3 linked regions of the Homo sapiens genome follow. The protein of the gene in region 2 interacts with the protein of the main gene of each other region in a pairwise test. Each region holds a gene or a part of one and is shown on either strand. Other genes may lie near its edges.

Evidence for each region.
Region 1: the proteins of MYOM1 (region 2) and DYSF interact in binary tests that used the Homo sapiens proteins (3 or more experiments, as listed by UniProt).
Region 3: the proteins of MYOM1 (region 2) and KRTAP5-7 interact in binary tests that used the Homo sapiens proteins (3 or more experiments, as listed by UniProt).

Annotation. Positions count from the first base shown.
Region 1 is NC_000002.12:71,567,680-71,574,705, forward strand, and holds part of DYSF (dysferlin), read left to right. Parts: intron 1-271; coding exon 272-403; intron 404-492; coding exon 493-659; intron 660-2,140; coding exon 2,141-2,255; intron 2,256-2,549; coding exon 2,550-2,655; intron 2,656-2,919; coding exon 2,920-3,062; intron 3,063-6,518; coding exon 6,519-6,692; intron 6,693-7,026. UniProt on the Homo sapiens protein: Key calcium ion sensor involved in the Ca(2+)-triggered synaptic vesicle-plasma membrane fusion.
Region 2 is NC_000018.10:3,083,961-3,090,986, forward strand, and holds part of MYOM1 (myomesin-1), read right to left. Parts: intron 6,843-7,026; coding exon 6,698-6,842; intron 5,637-6,697; coding exon 5,577-5,636; intron 5,282-5,576; coding exon 5,214-5,281; intron 2,192-5,213; coding exon 2,078-2,191; intron 1,173-2,077; coding exon 1,085-1,172; intron 68-1,084; coding exon 29-67; intron 1-28. UniProt on the Homo sapiens protein: Major component of the vertebrate myofibrillar M band. Binds myosin, titin, and light meromyosin. This binding is dose dependent.
Region 3 is NC_000011.10:71,522,922-71,529,176, forward strand, and holds KRTAP5-7 (keratin-associated protein 5-7), read left to right. Parts: upstream 1-4,345; 5' UTR 4,346-4,379; coding exon 4,380-4,877; 3' UTR 4,878-5,748; downstream 5,749-6,255. UniProt on the Homo sapiens protein: In the hair cortex, hair keratin intermediate filaments are embedded in an interfilamentous matrix, consisting of hair keratin-associated protein (KRTAP), which are essential for the formation of a rigid and resistant hair shaft through their extensive disulfide bond cross-linking with abundant cysteine residues of hair keratins.

The sequences.
Region 1 (7,026 bases), on a different chromosome or scaffold from region 2:
TCTTCTCTGCAGAGCGCTCCTAGGAGGGAATGATGTAGCCTTTGCCTTTGATGGGGAGGAATCTTGGTGAGGGGTAGGGGGTGGGGTGGACGTTTCTTAATTGCACACTCCCCTTCTATGCAATTCTGGTAAGCGCTCCCACAGGGGACACTCCCAGTGAGGGTGTCAGCCTGCTCTACCCAGGCTTGGAGGACTCCTCCTCCCCAGCCTCTCACTGGGACATCCGGATCCTGAAGGGGACTGTGGGTTTCTGTCCTTCTCTGGTACCCAGTATCCGATGGAGAAGGTGCCTGGCGCCCGGATGCCAGTGCAGATACGGGTCAAGCTGTGGTTTGGGCTCTCAGTGGATGAGAAGGAGTTCAACCAGTTTGCTGAGGGGAAGCTGTCTGTCTTTGCTGAAACCGTGAGTACCTGCCAGCCCCCACCTCTGCCTCCCACTACCTGGAGCTGCCTTGGCCCCCTGCTCACGCCTCATTCTTCCTGGCCCTCCAGTATGAGAACGAGACTAAGTTGGCCCTTGTTGGGAACTGGGGCACAACGGGCCTCACCTACCCCAAGTTTTCTGACGTCACGGGCAAGATCAAGCTACCCAAGGACAGCTTCCGCCCCTCGGCCGGCTGGACCTGGGCTGGAGATTGGTTCGTGTGTCCGGAGAAGACGTGAGTCGTGGGCAGGGAGGGCTGGGGAGAGCCAGGCCAGGCTGCCCACCATGGACTGCACCCTCCTTTTGGAGGCAGGCTGGGGTCTGTTGATCCCTCTGCTTGCTCCTGCGCTGGTCATAGGAACTTCCGCTGAACTCTCCCAGGACTGAGGCTTGCCAGGCAGCAGTCCTTTCCAGAAGGGCTTGGATGGTCAGACAGTCCTTTATTCTTTTCATTAAAAAAATTTTTTTTTTTTTTTGAGACAGAGTCTCACTCTGTTTGGAGGCTGGAGTGCAGTAGCATGATCGCAGCTCATTGCAGCCTCAACCTCCTGGCCTCAGGTGATCCTCCTGCTCCTGCCTTCTGAGTAGCTGGGACCACAGGCGTGCGCCATCATGCCTGGCTAATTTTTAAATTTTTTGTAGAGACAGGGTCTCACTGTGTTGCCCAGGCTGGTCTTGAACTCCTGGGCTCAAGTGATTCTCCCTCCTTGAACTCCCAAAGTGCTGGGGTTACAGGCTTGAGTCACCACGCCTGGCCAGGCCTTTATTCTCTCTCTTTTTTTTTTTTGAGACGGAGTCTCGCTCGGTCGCCCAGGCTGGAGTGCAGTGGCGCGATCTCGGCTCACTGCAACCTCCACCTCCCGGGTTCACGCCATTCTCCGGCCTCAGCCTCCTGAGTAGCTGGGACTACAGCTGCCTGCCACTACGCCCAGCTAATTTTATTTTGTATTTTAGTAGAGACGAGGTTTCACCATGTTAGCCAGGATGGTCTCGATCTCCTGACCTGGTGATCCACCCGCCTCGGCCTCCCAAAGTGCTGGGATTACAGGCTTGAGCCACCGCGCCTGGCCCAGGCCTTTATTCTTAAGCCTTCGTTCTGTGTGGTGCCCACTGGGTGTGGCCCCATCCTCAAAGACACCCAGGACAAGCCCATCACCTCCTCTGCACGTGAACCCTTCTCGTGTCTGGGCTGCTCACACATCCCCTGAGTGGTCCTTTCTCTGTCAGTCCCTCTCAGATCCACGTGGTCCTTCTCCATGTCTATTGCCGCCTTTGCCTCTCTCTCCTCTCCTTTTCCTGTTTGGTTGGCATTCAACTCTGTGGTGTTTAACTTTTTTTTACTTAAAAAAATTGAAGTATAACATATTATACAGTCAAGCACTCAAATCTTATGAGCACAACTTGATAAAACTTTATATTTTTACAACTATCCATCAAGCCTCGACTGCCCATCCTCCTTTTGCTGTCTTCAGTTGGCCCCCTTTTCTCTTTATCTTGGGTGATGTGCTCTTTTGTCCCCGATTATCTCGGAGTGTCCCTAGGTCTCCTTTTCACTGTCTGCCTTGGTCTCTTGCACCCTTCCCTCCCCACCCCCCATGTCTCTCATTGTTGGTTGGGGTGAGGCTGACATACGCAGGGGTGCTCTCCAGGAGGTGGTAGATGGATGGGGGCCTCTCCAGCAGAGCAGCAGAGACTCTGACCAGCCCTCCTCCACAGTCTGCTCCATGACATGGACGCCGGTCACCTGAGCTTCGTGGAAGAGGTGTTTGAGAACCAGACCCGGCTTCCCGGAGGCCAGTGGATCTACATGAGTGACAACTACACCGATGTGGTAAAGCAGGCACTCAGGGGCAGGTGGGGTCTAGACATTTGGTCTCTGGAGGCACCTGGTGCTCAGGGACAGGTGGGGCATGTTTCTCTTTGCCCCCTCTTACCTCCGGAGACTTCATGCTTTGATTTCCAAAGGGAAAGTGTGGGGTGCAGTGGTGGCAGGACACTGACTCTGGGGCTCTGCCCTTCTGTCTGGGACTTGGAGGACGTATGTTGTCAAGTTGCATCTTTTCTGCCTCCCTGCTCACATCTGTCTGTCTCCTCTCATTGCTTGCCTGTTCGGTTTTGTCCTTAGAACGGGGAGAAGGTGCTTCCCAAGGATGACATTGAGTGCCCACTGGGCTGGAAGTGGGAAGATGAGGAATGGTCCACAGACCTCAACCGGGCTGTCGATGAGCAAGGTGGGCAGCATGTGGAACCTGGCGAGCCCCATCCCCGGCAAGCTCTCAAGCCATGCTGGTGGGGACGACTGAATGCCAGGGCCCTTCACTGGGCTATTTCACCCAGGGACGCTTCTTGAAGGCACCCCCCACTCCAAGCTGCAAATTAGGACCGAGAGTCAGTGGCCGCTCAAGAGTCTGTGACCATGCCCCAAATTCAGAGATGGTCCCAGGAGAGATGGGGGGAACTGCCAAGCAATGAGTGACCGGTTCCCCCTCCCCCAGGCTGGGAGTATAGCATCACCATCCCCCCGGAGCGGAAGCCGAAGCACTGGGTCCCTGCTGAGAAGATGTACTACACACACCGACGGCGGCGCTGGGTGCGCCTGCGCAGGAGGGATCTCAGCCAAATGGAAGCACTGAAAAGGGTGAGCCAGCAGGTGGTGGGTGGGAGTGAGGCCTGTGGTCACAGGTGGCCAGTAGGCACAGATGCAGACCTGCATGCCCACAGACACATGCATGTGTGCACACAGCATGCACAGACACCTGGGACTCACTGGAGGTGCTCACAGATCACACCCAGCATACCCAAAGATCACACCCAGCATACACACAGATCACACCCAGCATACCCAAAGATCACACCCAGCATACACACAGATCACACCCAGCACACAGATCACACTGGGAACACCCACAGATCACACTCAGCACACACACAGATTACACCCAGCACACACACAGATCACACCCAGCACACAGATTACACCCAGCACACACACAGATCACACCCAGCACACAGATCACACCCACAGATCACACCCAGCGCATGCACAGATCACACCCAGCACACCCAAAGATCACACCCAGCACACACACACAGATCACACCCAACACACCCACAGTTCACACTCAGCACACACAGATCACACCCAACACACCCACAGTTCACATGCAGCACACCCACAGTTCACACCTAGCACACACAGATTACACCTAGCACACCCAGCACACGCACAGCTCACACCCAGCACACCCACAGATCACACCCAGCACATGCACAGATCACAGTCAGCACACACAGATCACACCCAGCACACACAGATCACAGTCAGCACACACAGATCACACCCAGCACACACACAGATCACACCCAGCACACACACATCACACCCAGCACGCACAGATCACACCCACCACACACAGCTCACACCCAGCACACACACATCACACCCAGCACACGCACAGATCACACCCACCACACACAGATCACACCCAGCACACACAGCTCACACCCAGCACACACACAGATCACACCCAGCACATGCAGAGATCACACACAGATCACACCCAGCACACCCACAGATCACACCCAGCACATGCACAGATCACAGTCAGCACACACAGATCACACCCAGCACACACACAGATCACAGTCAGCACACACAGATCACACCCAGCACACACACAGATCACACCCAGCACACACAGCTCACACCCAGCACACACACATCACACCCAGCACATGCACAGATCACACCCACCACACACAGATCACACCCAGCACACACAGCTCACACCCAGCACACACACAGATCACACCCAGCACATGCACAGATCACACACAGATCACACCCAGCACACCCACAGATCACACCGAGCATGGATCACATCCAGCACACCCAGCACAGATCACACTCAGCACACACACATTACACCTAGCACACCCACAGATCACACCCAGCACACACACAGATCACACCCAGCACACCCACAGATCATACCCAGCACACCCACAGATCATACCCAGCACAGATCACACCCAGCACACCCACAGATCACACCCAGCATGGATCACACCCAGCACACCCAGCACAGATTACATCCAGCACACCCAGCACAGATCACACCCAGCACATGCACAGATCACACCTAGCACACCCACAGATCACAACCAGCACAGATCACACCTAGCACACCCACAGATCACACCCAGCACACAGAAATCACACCCAGCACACCCACAGATCACACCCAGCACAGATCACACCCAGCACACCCACAGATGCTTATAGACAGACACACTCAGATGCCCATGATTACAGAAGGTCACATGCAAAGTTCACACACCAACCTGGAAGATGGAAAGACACCCATGGACTTTGTCTTAGGCTGGGTTTCCTGGAGGCAGAAGCTAAGACGTAGATTTGGCTGCACATTATTGGGGCAGTGCCCTCGGGAGTGTGAGGAGCAAGGATGCAGCTTCAGGCAGGTCAGCTGTGGCCTGAGCTGTGGCCTGGGGAAGTTCACAACTCGGAACACCACAGAATCCTCACCTGGAGGCAGGGCTGGGCTTTGTATCCTCTCAGCCATCTGTCTAGGCTTGGGGTTGCTGGGGTGAGCTGGGGCACATACCTATCTCTTCAGTGAGGGGGTTTCCTTTAGCATGGGGGTTCCCTGGAGCAGGTGGCTTCTGGGAGCTGGGAGCTGTCGATGCTGATGGCAGCTGGGGATGGGTGCGCCACACGTGTACATTGGCTGGTGAGGGGGCTGGGGTGGGCCCCGTTGGCATTCATGCAATGCAAGCACACATGCCCACAGTTGAGCACAGATGCCATGGGATACTGTCAGGCCCATCGTGCACATGGATGAGCACACGCAAGCACATGCACTTGCTCCGGGGTCACACAGGGGCCTGTGCACTGCACAGCCTCTGTGCCCGCCTGTCCTGGACCTTCTTGGTCTATGATCTTCCTTCCTAAACACACATTTGAATTTTGGCTCAAGAACCAGACCTCCCTTAGTCCAGGAGTAGCCTGTGGCATGACCTAGGTTCCTTCCTTTCTCCTTGGGGGCAGAGAACCTAGAGAGGACTCTTGCTGGCTCCAGGGAGGGGCAAGGCTTTTGGACAACCAGCTGTTCCTGGTGCTGTGAACCAGACAGATTCAACTTTCTCCCTGAAGGGGCACCCAGCAGACAGAGGCAAAGCCTGCCCAGGCTCATGTGCCTTGCCCACCACCCCACAGCCAGCATCCTTCCTGGAGAGTGGCACAGCTGGCCTCCAGGACTGGCCCTTGTCACTGTGCTCCTGGCCCAGACCTGAGGTGGTGTCTGACAACAGTGCCAGGTCACCCTCTCCCAGGAGCTGAATGGCAAGGGGGCTCCCGGGACTCCCTTCAGGCCCAGGAAAGGGACCCCATGAACGAGGTACAGGGGTGCCTCCATAGCTGAGTTGGGTCTAGCTCCCAGGGGTGAAATTGGCTGTGGTTGGGAAATAGGATCTTCCTTTTACCTCTGAGCTGCAGACCCACTACAGGATGTGAAGATGAAAAAGGAAATGACAAGAAAACTTTGGATTCATGAAATCCACCCAGAATTCAAACAAATAAGCAAGTTAAAAGCCCAGTGTTTTCGTCACTGCGTCAGCCTACCTTCCTTTCTGGCTGTTTGGTTCTTCCCGCAGCCCATGGAGCCTCCTCTCCCCTCCTGATTTTTCTTTTTCTTTTTTCTTTTTTTCTTTTCCTTTTGAGATGGAGTCTCATTCTGTCACCCAGGCTTGAGTGCAGTGGCGCAATCTCGGCTCACTGCAACCTCCACCTCCCAGGTTCAAGCAATTCTCCTGCCTCAGCCTCCCTGGTAGCTGGGATTACAGACATGAGCCACCATGCCTGGCCTCCCCTCCTGATTTTCTGACCTGGGGTTCCTGTGGCTGCAGAAAGCCCCTCTCCTCTAGGTGGCCCTCCCAGGTTTTCCCACCTGGAGGGCACTAGTGTGGGAGCTGGTGGGGAGTTGTCATGGAAGACAGGAAGGCAAAGGTGGAGCCGAGCACAGAACTCCCCCCAGCCTTCCCACCGGCCTCTGAGTCTGCCCCTTCTCTTGTGCAGCACAGGCAGGCGGAGGCGGAGGGCGAGGGCTGGGAGTACGCCTCTCTTTTTGGCTGGAAGTTCCACCTCGAGTACCGCAAGACAGATGCCTTCCGCCGCCGCCGCTGGCGCCGTCGCATGGAGCCACTGGAGAAGACGGGGCCTGCAGCTGTGTTTGCCCTTGAGGGGGCCCTGGTATGTGGGGCTGCACTTGTCCTGGCTTGGGTAGGGTATATCTTGGTTTCCCAGGGCTGTTCGGGCTGATGTGGGAGAGGCACAGGGACCCCAGGTTAGGACTTTTGGATGGAACGCTGGCTGGTCATCCTGGCGTCAGTACCTGTGGGGTGGCATGTGGGGAAAGCAGCCCCAGTCTGGGTGTTCTTCTAAAATGAAAAAGCTCCTTCCTTGGCACTGAAACACTTGCTGCTACTACTTTGAGGTGTCAAGATGAAAGCAGAGGGGAAGATGGCCTTGGCCGTCTGGCTGGCCTGTGCCTGGCTGGCTGGTGTGAAGATGGGCGAGGAGGCCC
Region 2 (7,026 bases):
TTGTTGTGGTGCGAAATGTTTGACTCACCTATTTTTTTGCATACTTCCATCATCAGTTCCTTAAAGGCTGTGGAGAGAGATTCAGAGCCAAAACTTTAGCATAAAAATTCTCAATGTAAGGTTAAATCTCAAATTCTTAGCTCTCAAAAATTCCCTTTCTGGTTGAAAGGAAATGGAAACAAGGTGAATTTGTCGACCCACTGATAATGAGTATTCTTTGAGGAAATAGTTCAATTTTATCAGGTTTTAAAAGATCCCTGCTTATTTTGATTTTTTTTCCCTTGAATTCTTTGTCACAATCGCCATATTTACATTCTAGAGAAAGGGCCACAAGAGATTTCTAGGAAGGTTCTTGGCTTTGGGATTCTCTTTCTTCTTAATTCCCAGGAAGCCTTAGTTTACATTAGAGGACATTTTCTTAGCCGTGTCATCGATTCATAATGAATTAACCATGTAGGTCTCCTGGCCTTCATCAGCCTGATAATGCTTTTTGCCAATAAACACATTTAGCCCCACTTCCACCCAAAGTAGGAAGGTGAAATTAGTCAGACTTCTGCTGTTTGTTAGCAATATTGTTTTAAAAATCTTGTTCAGGAACAAAATTGTAAGTTTGGAGTTCCCATGTAGATTTTCATCATCATGATATATTTGTCCTTAGTAGTCTCTGAAAAATGGAATTTGCTTTCTTGCTGTGCTAAAAACTGCAAGGCTTCACATTTCATATATAAATCTTGCTTGCTACCTTTAGAGTGGACTATTTTTTGTCATGCTTCTCACAGAAGTTTTTGAGCCTGGAACATTTTTATAGAGTTGAAACAAAAATGATTTAAATTGAAAACAGATCCCTTGTGGACTCTGGACTATAAATTCTCTAAGGATCAAAAATACACTTCTGATTTCGAAGATGACTAGAAGTGAGGTATTTTTGAATAAAACAGTTCACTCTGTTGGAATTTCAATTAAGCCAAAATCTGTGGACAAAAAAAATCAGCATGATTTCAATCGTCAGCTCGGCCTCAATCATCATTCTGGTAAGCTGTATGCAGAAACACACAAGACAGACCCCAGCAGTTGGTGGACTGACCTTCATCCACAAGCTTCAGTCTGCTCTTATCTTTTCCTCGGTCATCTTTCAGGATAACTTCATAAATCCCAGCATCTTTCTTGGAAAACTAAGGGGGAATAGATATACCACATTGCACCTTTCGTAGCCCCAGGGCACGGTATCTGTGATTTTTTTTTTTCTTCTGCTTCTTCTGCTGCTGCTGCTTTTTTTTTTTTTTTTTTTTTTTTTTTTTTTTTTTTTTTTTTTGAGACAAGGGTCTCACTCTATCAGCCAGGCTGGAGTGCAGATGTGTGATTATAGCTCACTGTATCCTTGAACGCCTGGCCTCAAGCCTTGACCTACCAAAAGCACTGGGATTACAGGTGTGAGCCACTGCACCTCACCTGCTATCTGCATTTTTAAAGGCCCTTGATTTACAGAATTGCCATCAAAACACTCTTTGAACAAGCATCTAACTTGTGAGTGGTGAACCGTTCACAGATGCAGAGATGCACCTCTCCATAATAATTTGACCAGCGAGCTAGCAGTCCTGACTTTTTACCTTCCAAGGCTGTAATTGATATGAGGCTTAATGTCCTTACTTTTTACTCTGCCTTCATTTATTAAAAACTAGTGATCACTAGTTTTATAGTGATATATTTAAATGCTGTGCTCTTTTAGACAAGAAGTAGATAAAAATCTATCCTTAAATGAATACCATGTCTGATGTCTCTGTACTTTTAGGACCACGAGGCTTAAGCACAAATGAAGAATGATCCACTTCACTGCCCATATATGGATAAAAGCAACTCAGAAAAGCAAGAGTTGTGGCATTCAGCTCATACTGGTTTGCTACCTAACAAATCCACACACATCACAAGGTTAGAGAAGCTTTTGTGTTCCTACAGCAGTTGGAAGTAAGCTAATATAAATCCCCTGGTCATGAAAGGAATACAGAATCTAGTTACTGTTTTGGGGTAAGATAGAGGGTAGAGAGCTAATATATTACATTTTACATTTATAATCGCCTACCTCTGTTATAAGCAGGGTACATATACCATCCTTAAAGTCATGCTTTTCATCCACTGATATCTCCCTCTCATCTTTGTACCACACAATATGAGTCTCCTTCTTAATATTTGCCACCTAGGAGAAAAACCATAATTACTTTTCTTAAAATAAGAAAGTGTACTCTTGTGAAGTTGAATAGTTCTTAATGCAGCAAGATATAAAAGAAAAAGCACTGAACGTGGAGTGAGAAGACACAGATTTCTAAAGGAATGAATTGAAAACTATTTTAATTGAGAAAAGAGTTTAGAATCAAGTGGACACCAATGAATAAACCTAAATCAATAGCATCTCTATTTCCAGCAGTGAAAATTGACTCTAAAATCATGTGGTAGGAAAGAAAAGAGAGAATAGATACATTCATACTGACATACAAACTTAAATGAAAATAGAAGTCACAAAACCAAAGGGAGAAAAATCCCATCAGATTAAAATACAGGCTGTGTTACAAAAACAAATGGCTTTATTAAAGGAACAGAATGAGTAAGCGCCAATCTATATCTAAAAGTTTAATGAAAGATAAATGAAGCATTGCAAATATATGTGGAGGGGAGGTATGCTAAGTAAATTAATTACTTAGCAATTTCGAGGAGACTCACTTAGATACACTAATCTTCTCATCATATCATCTATTTCAAATGGACTAAACAACTGCATATGGTTAAAGGGATCTTGAGTTTCATCTACAATGCTTGAATTTTTTTTACAAAGGAGAATATACTCATGTATTTCTTGTATAATTCAAATTGTATGAAAAAGTAAAGACTTCCTACAAATCAAGAAAACCGTCTCAAAGACCCCACTGAATAATGGGTGAAAACTACATACCATTCCCCAAAGAGAAAATACAACCATAAAACCAACAGACAAAGACAATGTTGTCTCATTATACGTGACAATATACAGGTTTTAAAATGTGAAACAATTTCAGCTAATAAATAAACATAGGAACCACCCTGGCAACTGTAGTGAAACCACTACACACAATCATTCTTTATGACCCTGGAAACTGGTTCCTGAATTGTAGAAAGTGTGTTACCAGCTGACATTGCTTACGATAAAAATGACCTCGATTGGAAAGCTGTGTCTGGACCCAGAGGACTAGAAATGCACTCCGCAGCTTTGGGCTTTGCTGAGTACATTGCTCATGAAATTTGGACACATCCCTTGTGTGGATCCCAGAAGCTCTGTTTAGGCAGTTGTTAGAAAAGATACTAGTTCCTCAGGGCATGAAGTTTTTTTGGGCTTTTTTTTTTTTTAAAGCCGTGGTGACTTCCTGCACCTGCCCAAAGTGGATCTTGTCTCCTTGCATCTGAGCTTTCTGTTGTCCGGGATGGCAAAGGTCATAGCTCCACATGTGGACTCCTGAGGGAGAGGAAGGTCCCAGTGTGCAAGCTAGGGTTCCTCCTACGTTCTTTTTTTTTTTTTTTTTTTGAGACAGAGTCTCACTCTATCACCCAGGCTGGAGTGCAGTGGCATGATCTCGGCTCACTGCAACCTCAGCCTCCCGGGTTCAAGTGATTCTCCTGCCTCAGCCTGCCAACTAGCTGGAACCACAGGTGCCTGCCACCATGCCCAGCTAATTTTTGTATTTTTAGTAGAGACGGGGTTTCACCATGTTGGCCAGGCTGGTCTTGAAGTCCTGACCTCAAGTGATCTGCCTGCTTTGGCCTCCCAAAGTGCTGGGATTACAGGCATGAGCCACCGCTCCCTGCCCCTCCTACTTTTTATTTATTTATTTTTTTTTTTGAGTAGACTAGCGCCAAGCAAGACCCACGATACTCCAGTGAGTCTGAATGATTCGCTGCGCATACTCCATGAACTGTAATGCGACACGTGAGTGGCTAAATTTACAGGAATTGCCACAGTAACGGAACAAAGAGCTATGCGAAGACAGAGGAAGCGGGAGGCCTTCTAGAGATGACTGAGCTGGGCCTGGGAAAGGATTTTGTCAGAGAAGCTGAAAGAACGTCATTCCAGGCATTGGAACGACAGCATAACAGAACTGTGTGAATATTCACAATCCATTTCCAGACTGCCCTTGGTTGCTCAGAATCTGGGTATGGGGCTGATTGTCCTGAGGAAGGCCATCACAGGACACCAGAGCTCCTCTGGTGCAGAGGGAAACAGCAAGCGCAGAAGGCGAGGGATGTGTGGGCTTTTGAAAAAGGATAGCTTATAGGGAGGGGCCACGCAAATGAAGAAGTGAGTGGGACAGCAAGACGGAGCAGCTGGGATGAGAGAGAAGGTGAGGGCTTCAGCTGCTGCCAGAGAAAGAGTTTTTCAAGCAGCGTTGCCATTTCCTGTGAGGCTAAAACCTAGAACTGATTTTCCTTATATGTATTTCTGATAGACTGCTGTTTCTTTGAGTTTATCACATCTAGTAGACACTGGGGCACTTGGGTTCTGGCTTTTATCATGACAATTGTGAAATCCAGACCAAATGCCACACCTATGCTTCCACCTGTCCTTGTCAGCCAGCAGGACCTTCACGCTCCAACCTCACCCACCGGTTCCTTACCCAAAACATTTCTGATGACTCAGCTACACACCACATGCTAAAGTACAAACTTGTTTAGAATGCTGTATAGAATTTTTTTTTCCTGAATCTTTCCAAAGTCCTAATAAGACAATTGGTTGTGAGCTGCCAACTCTTTTCCACATGTCTCCCTTGGAGTCAGTGGCACAGCTGGGGAATACCCAGGGGTATTGTTGCACCAGCCTCACAATTTACATGGCAAGGTCCACGAAACATTGCAGCTGGAGTGATTCTGGAATAGGTCTATGACTTAGAATACAGATTTGGCTTAAAACAAAAACGTGAGAGTCTTTGGAGATTACTAATTAGATAAAAGTCTAGGGTGTTACTAACTAGATCATGAGTAGTGACTAGGAATGATCACCTTGCCTTGTCATATTTTATGTCATTTTATTTTAAATCTTTCTTATCAACAAATGGTTACAGTAACATTGAACAGTAAATATGTGTCCCACTTATCATTTTGGCTCAGATGGAAGAGATGAAAAATTGAGCTTCCTCTTCTCTACATTCTATTTTATTTCCCTTGAATCAAATATTAAAAATTTATCTACCTCTTACCTTGCATTTCAATAGTACATTACATTCACCAGTCACTTCCCAGCTCAAATACTCAACAAAGTGAGGACCTATAAAATTTTAATGACATTAGCAATTACTCTATTAATCACAAATGCAAAATCAAAGCTCACACTTAAGTCCTAAGGTGATTTACATCTGAAGTCAGATTTTTAAAATTCTAGATTTAGCTTTTAAATATTTTAATGTCTACATATTTAACAGTAAATATTTTTAATTATTTTAATTTACTAGGCATTATTAACATAATCAATAATATTCATTTTAATTTGTTATGGAAATAACCTTGGAATCTTTTGTACAAAAAAATTAAAAATTTTCTCTTTATCCACGGCCTATTTTTACCTTGTTTCCTGATCCATTCTTGCCGCTGGAATTCAGCTTCTTTCTGGAGCTTTTTGAAAACTACAAATTGAAAAACAAGGAAGTGTGAAATTGAGTTGGGTGGTATAAATGCACATGTCAGCCACTGCACTAAGTGATTTATATTCATTATTGTAACACTCATACATTGTGACAACCCTGCTCATTTTTTATCTTTATAGATGAAGAAATAGGCTTAGGAAGGTTAAATAAATTGTACAAGGTCATAAAGCTAGGAAACAGTGACATAATATTGGATGTTGCAAATACAGAGATCTGGCCGGCCTTTCCATTGCCTTCGTAACTGCCACATTTTAAATCTGGGTGGTAGTAAGTGAGCAGCTGATTTACTACAATCCAGTTACAATGTATGATTAGTAGATTCGGCAGGCACTACTTTTGCATATTTTTCTTCTCAATTTTAGTAATTTACAGTAAGTACACGTGGCAAAACAGTCTCATGGTTTGTTTCTGAGACACATACAGTCTTTGTTGTATTGCAATCTCCCTCACTGGAGAATTTTAGCAATAAACATTTGTTTATATATGAAAGTATTTAAACGCAGTCTTGCCTGTGAGCTAGGAATAAATTTGGTGTTCCTTTAAATTCACTTTCATTTCCATGAAATAAAATACCATGTAAAGTATTAACTGAAAACTGTATTTTTTTTTTTTTTTTTTTTGAGACAGGGTCTCACTCTGTCCCCCAGGCTGGAGTGCAGTGGTGCGATCTTGGCTCACTGCAATCTCTGCTTCCCGGGTTCAAATGATTCTCATGCCTCAGCCTCCCAAGTAGCTGGGACTACAGGTGCACACCACCATGCCTGGCTAATTTTTGTATTTTTAATAGAGGCGGGGTTTCACCATGTTGGCCAGGCTGGTCTTAAACTCTTGACCTTAGGTGATCCACCCGCCTCGGCCTCTCAAAGTGCTGGGATTATAGGCATGAGCCACCGCGCCCAGCTGAAAATTGTATTTTGAACATTAGAAGTCAATTAAGAAAAAATTCCTACTACCTTTCAAATAACAACTTTTGTGCCATGGGGTACTTAGATTGAAGGGAGTAGCAAAGCCTGCTGGTTAATGTTCCACGGAATTCTTACCATCTCCAACGAGAACAACAGTAGAATGGTTAGTTGCTTTTCCATCTTGAAGCTGGAAAGTGTACGTTCCCTCATCCTCATCCTGTAGCTTTTCCATGAACATTTCGATGATGCCAGTGTTTCGGTCAATATGCATTTTATATTTCTTCAGTGTGAAAAGAAAATGACAGAGAAATCACTGAGGCATATATTTTACTTGGAATGACAACAAGCTTGATGAAATAAAAATAAACCCCAAAGGCTAGATGCAGTGCCTGTTCATGCCTGTAATCCCAGTACTTTGGGAGGTCGAGGTGGGAGGATTACTTGAGGCCAGAAGTTTGAGAACA
Region 3 (6,255 bases), on a different chromosome or scaffold from region 2:
TACGCTGGTGACATGTTGCTGTATTCTTGGGCGAGTACGCTGGTGACATGTTGCTGTATTCTTGGGTGAGAATGCTGAGGACATGCTGCTGTATTCTTGGGCGAGTACATTGGTGACATGCTGCTGTGTTCTTAGGTGAGTACACTGGTGAAACAATGCCCAATCGCACGGCCAAGAGATTTGAGGAGCAGGGACATCTGGTAAGCAGACTTCAGTTTCTTTTCAGTAATGTGCCCCTCTTATGCTCTCCTCAGGGTTTAGCATGCATCCCTTAAACAAAGAAAGTAGCCTCATATAAGCAATGGTTTTGTGACTAGAGTGCCTCAGTCCATTATTGCTGCTATAAGATAATAATTGACCTGGGTAATTGATAAAGAACAGAAATGTACTTTCTCAGAGTCCTGAAGGCTGGGAAGTCCAAGATCAAGGTGCTGATATCTGGTGTGGGCCTTCTTACTGTGTCTTCACATATTGGAAGGCAGAAGGGCAAGAGAGCATGAATATGTTGTCCTCACATGGCAGAAGAACAGAAAGGGGTGAATGCCCTCTCTCAAGTCCTTCTTGGAGCAGCACTAATTCATTCCAAGTACCTTTTGTTAGGCCCCACCTCCCAACACTCTTGCATTGGGGATGAAGTTTCTAATACATGAATTTTGGGGGACACATGCAGACCATGGCATAAAGGAACCTCTCTCCCCACATGGAGTACAACTGAGCAGGGAACCCAGCTGAGCAGCTGAAGTAAGCAGCCTAAGAGGAGTGAACACTCTGCCTGGGGAAGAGAGAAAACAACAGCAGAGAGACTTGTGAGATTTTCAGAAATAATTGAGTAGGGGAAAAGATTCCCCACAAACAACAAGATGAGGATAGATTATTCTTATTTGGATAGGAAAGGAAAGGATATTGTCTGGGTGCAGTGGCTCACACCTGCAATCCCAGCACTTTGGGAGGCCAAGGTAGGAGGATCACTGGAGGCCAGGAGTTTGAGACCAGCCAGAGCAACATGGCAAGGCCCCATCTCTACAAAAAGTTTAAAAGTTAGCTGGGTATGGTGATACATGCCTATATTCCCAGCTACCTAGGAGGCCAAGGCGGGAAGATTCCTTAAGCCCAGAAGTTTGAAGGTGCAGTAAGCTGTGGTCACGTCACTGCAATCCAGCCCAGGTGACAGAGGAAGACTTCATCTAAAAAAAAAAAAGTGATCCCCAGTAATATAGTTTGCATGCTTCCTCCAAATCTTATGTTGGTGGGGCCTGCTGGGAGGTGTTTGGATCATGGGTGTAGATTTTTCATGAATGGTTTAGCACCATCTCCTTGGTGATGAATAAGTTCGAGCAAGATCTGGTTGTTTAAAAATATGTGGCACTGACCAGGCATGGTGGCTCATGCATGTCATCTCAACACTTTGGGAGGCTGAGGTGGGCAGATCACCTGAGGTCAGGAGTTCGAGACCAGCCTGACCAACAGGGAGAAACCCTGTCTCTACTAAAAATACAAAATTAGCCAGGTGTGGTGGTGCATGCCTGTACTCCCAGCTATTCGGGAGGCTGAGGCAGGAGAATCACTTGAACCTGGGAAGCGGAGGTTGCGGTGAGCCGAGATCATGCCATTGTACTCCAGCCTGAGTAACAAGAGCAAAACTCCATCTCAAAAAAAAAATGTGTGGCCTCTGTCCCTCCACCAGCTCTCTCTTTCTCAGCTGTCACCATGTGGCATGCCTGCTCCTGCTTTGCCTTCTACCATGAATAAAAGCTCCCTGAGGGCCTCACCAGAAGCTGAGCAGATGTCGGTGCCATGCTTGTACAACTAGCAGAACCAGGAGCCAATTAAACCTTTTTTATTTATAAATTACCCAGCCTCAGATATTTCTTTATGGCAACACAAAAAATACAGAAAACTGTACCAGGAATGGTATGTTGCTATAAAGTCACCTGAAAATGTGGAGGTGACTTTGGAACTGGGTAATGGCCAGAGATTGGAAGATTTTTGGAGGGCTCAGAAGAAGACAGAAAGATGAGGAAAAGGTGGGAACTCCTTTGAGACTGGTTAAATGGTTGTGTCCAAAATAATTAAAGTGATAAGAACAATGAAGTCCAGCCTGATGAGGTCTCAGATGGAAATGAGGAACTTACTGAAAACTAAAACAAAGATCACTTGTGTTACACCTTGGCAGAGAGCTTGACCATATTGTGCTTCATGCCCTAGGGGGCTCTGAAAATTTCTACTTAGGAGTGATGACTTAGGATATCTAGTGGAAGAAATTTCTAAGCAGCAAACATTCAAGCTGTGGCCTGACTGAATCTAACATCGTATTCTCACATGCAAGAGCACATAAATGAATTAAAGTTGGAATTTATATTTAAAAGGGAATCAAAGTGTAAAAGTTTGGAAACTTTGCAGCATGGCCATGTGGCAGAGAATGAAAAAGCATTATCAGGAGAGGAATCCAAGCAGGCTATAGAGCAACCACCTGCTAGAGATATTAGCATGACTCAAAAAACAAACAAAAAAACCCAAGTGCTAATAGCCAACACAATTGGAAAAGACTTCAAATGCATTTCAAAAGTGTTTGAGACAGCCCCTCTCATCACTGACCTAGAGGTCTAGGAGGACACCATGGTTTCAGGGGCTCACCCCAGGCCCTCACTGCCCTGCATAGCCTTGGAGCACTGCTCCCCACACATAGGCTACTCCAGCTCCAGCCTCAGCTCAAAAGACCCCAAATGTAACTCTGGCTTCAGAGGGTGCAAGCCATAAGCCTTGGTAGCTCCCATGTGGTGTTAAGCCTGTAGGTGCGTAGAATACAAGAGTGAAGGAGGCTTGGGATCCTCTACCTAGATTGCAGAGGATTTATGAGAAAGCCTGGGCACTCAGGCAGAAGCCTGCTGCAGGGGCAGAGCCCGCACAGAGGATATATACTAGGGCAGTGTAGAGGGGAAATGTGGAGTAGGAGGCCCACACAGAGTCCCCACTGGGGCATTGCTTAATTGAGCTGTGGGGAGGAGGACACCATCCTCCAGGCCCCAGAATGGTAGAGCCACTGGCAGCTTACATCTTGAGCATGGAGAAGCTGCAGGCACACAACTCCAACCCATGAGAGCAGCTGCAGGGTGCGAACCTTGCAAAGCCACAAGGGTGGAGTTCCCCAAGGCCTTAGGAGCCCACCCCTCACTCCAGTGTACCCTGGATGTGGGACTGGGAGTCCAAGGACATTATTTTGGAGCTTTAAGATTTAATGGCTGCCCTGCTGGATTTCAGACATGCATGGGGTCTGTAGCCCCTTCCTTTGGGCTGATTTCTCCCTTTTGGAATGGGAATGTTTACCCAATGCCTCCACCCTCATGTATCTTCAAAGTAAATAATGTGTTTTGATTTTCACAAGTTCATTGGTGGAAGGGACTTGGACTTGGGACTTTGGACTTGATGTTGGAATGAGTCAAGACATTGAGAGGACTGTTGGGAAGAGATGATTCTATTCTGCAATGTAAGGACATGAGATTTGAGGGGTCAAGGGGATAATGATACAGTTGGGATGTCCCCTCCAAATCTCTTGTCGAAATGTAATCCCCAGTGTTGAAGGAGGGGCCTGCAAGGAGGTGTTTAGGTCATGGGGGCGGATCCCTCATGACTGGCTTAGCGCCATCTCCTTGGTGATGAGTGTGTTCACTCAGATCTGGTTGTTCGCAAGTGTGTGGCCCCTCCTCACCCCTTGCTCCCACTCTCACGATGTGGTGAGCCTGCTCCTGCTTCACCTTCCACCATGAGGAAAAGCTCCCTGAGGGCCTGCCCAGAAGCTGAGCAGAGGTGGGTGCCATGCTTGTGCAGCCTGCAGAACCATGAGCCATTCTAACCTTTCCTTTATAAATTACCCAGCTTCAAGTATTTCTTTAGAGCAATGCAAAACTGAGAATGGCATGAGTAAAATATAAAGACCATGGATAATTTTGAAATCTAAAAATGTGAAATTAATATTCCTGGGGGAGTCAACACAGGAAAGATGAGAGCACGTGGGCAAAGGCTGTTGCCCATTGGTCACATGTGGTCAGCAGAGAGCAGGTGACCAGCACCCTGGAGCTTTGCGGGAAGCACCAGACAGCCTGGAGCTGAGGTTTCAATTGTAGGGGCCAAAACAAATAGGGAAAAAGACAAATTTAGTAAACAAAGAAAGTAGATGCTCAACTGAGCCAGGAGGAAGTCACTAGCAAAGAGGAAAAAAAATAGAGCTCTGGAAAAATAGCGTAAACAGTCACAAGGAAGCGACCCTGTATTGTGCCTGACCTCTGGACAGGTATATAAAGAGCCCGGGCTCAGGGGGCTCCACACCTGCACCTCCCTCTCACCTGCTCCTCTACCTGCTCCACCCTCAATCCACCAGAACCATGGGCTGCTGTGGCTGTTCCGAAGGCTGTGGCTCCGGCTGTGGGGGCTGTGGCTCCGGCTGTGGGGGCTGTGGCTCTGGCTGTGGGGGATGTGGCTCCAGCTGCTGTGTGCCCGTCTGCTGCTGCAAGCCCGTGTGCTGCTGTGTGCCAGCCTGTTCCTGCTCCAGCTGTGGCTCCTGTGGGGGCTCCAAGGGAGGCTGTGGCTCCTGTGGGGGCTCCAAGGGGGGCTGTGGCTCTTGTGGGGGTTCTAAGGGGGGCTGTGGTTCTTGTGGCTGCTCCCAGTGCAGCTGCTATAAGCCCTGCTGCTGCTCCTCAGGCTGTGGGTCATCCTGCTGCCAGTCCAGCTGCTGTAAGCCCTGCTGCTGCCAGTCCAGCTGCTGTAAGCCCTGCTGCTGTTCCTCAGGCTGTGGGTCATCCTGCTGCCAGTCCAGTTGCTGCAATCCCTGCTGCTCCCAGTCTAGCTGCTGTGTCCCCGTGTGCTGCCAGTGTAAGATCTGAGGCTCTGGACTCAGGTCTCATGTGAGTCCTGCTAACCCCATTTTCCGAAGCTGTGACCTGTCCTTCATCGTTGAGCCCCAAACCACTGCTCAGGGTCCATTCCTCACTATAAGATGAAGCCATATCTGCCTGCCTTTTCCTAAGGAGAGTCCACCCTAATTAATGTCCATTCCCTCCTAACAAATTCTCTTCCCAAGTCAACTGCAACTGCGGCTGAATCACCCCTCACCCGCTAGCCTTGCCTTTGCTTGTGTATTCAGAGGCCTGAGCTCCTGAACCCACTTGAAGTCCTGTCTTTTCCAGCTGGAGCAGCTGGGCATGAGTGTCCCACCTGCAACAAGGTGGGCGTTTAAGAGGCTTCCTTGGAGTGGCTTTGCCTGTCCAACACTCTGCTTTATCTTAAATGAAAAGTTGCAAACTAATAAAAATACCATGCCGACAAACTGAAACACATATCTTGCTGATTTCTCTGTTGTTCGGGGTCATTACTATGGCTATGGCTATTGTTTTCTTGTTCTTGTTGTGTTTCGGACTGCGTGGGTCTGATGCTGATGTTGCTGGAAGGTGCTAGGATGGGGCTGGCTGTCTCCTCTGCCTCTCATCTCCTTCCTGGCTGACCCCTCTTTTCTCAGAACCCCTCTCTTCCTAGGTCTTTCCAGCTATTGATCTGATGGAGACAGGACTGTTCCTCAGGCCAGGGCCACAGAAGCAGAAGAGGCTGCTGAAAACTCTGGGGAGTTCAGACTTGCCTCCTTTCCCTGGTCCAGGCCTCTGCCATCTTCCTTTGGGAAGTTTTTGTAACCAACTTACTCTGATTGTCTTTGTTGTTACACAGCCTGTTGCCTCTGTAAATAAACACTCCTAGCACCAAGCCAATATTGCTTTTTAAGAATTTTGAAAGGGCCGGGCGTAGTGGCTCACGCCTATAATCCCAGCACTTTGGGAGGCCGAGGCAGGCGGATCACTTGAGGTTAGGAGTTTGCGACCTGACTGGCCAACATGGTGAAACCCTGTCTCTACTAAAAATATAAAAATTAGCTGAGTGTGGTGGCACGTGTCTGTAATCCTGGCTACTTCGGAGGCTGAGGGAGGAGAATGGCTTCAACCTGGGAGGGGGAGGTTGTGATGAGTCGAGGTCGCGCCACTGCACTCCATTCTGGGCGACAGAGCAAGACTCCGTCAAAAAAAAAAAAAGGCAATATTAATAGAGTTGAATTATTTCAAGTTATTTGGAAACACAGCAATTTATTGGTGGGATATGTCCTAAGCATAGAAAGAACACAAAAATAAAATTCCTAAGCTATTTTTAGTAGTCATGGTGGCAGCAGTGGTGTCGTTATTCTGCTGTGAATGCTGTATGGAAAAAGCAAATGCATAA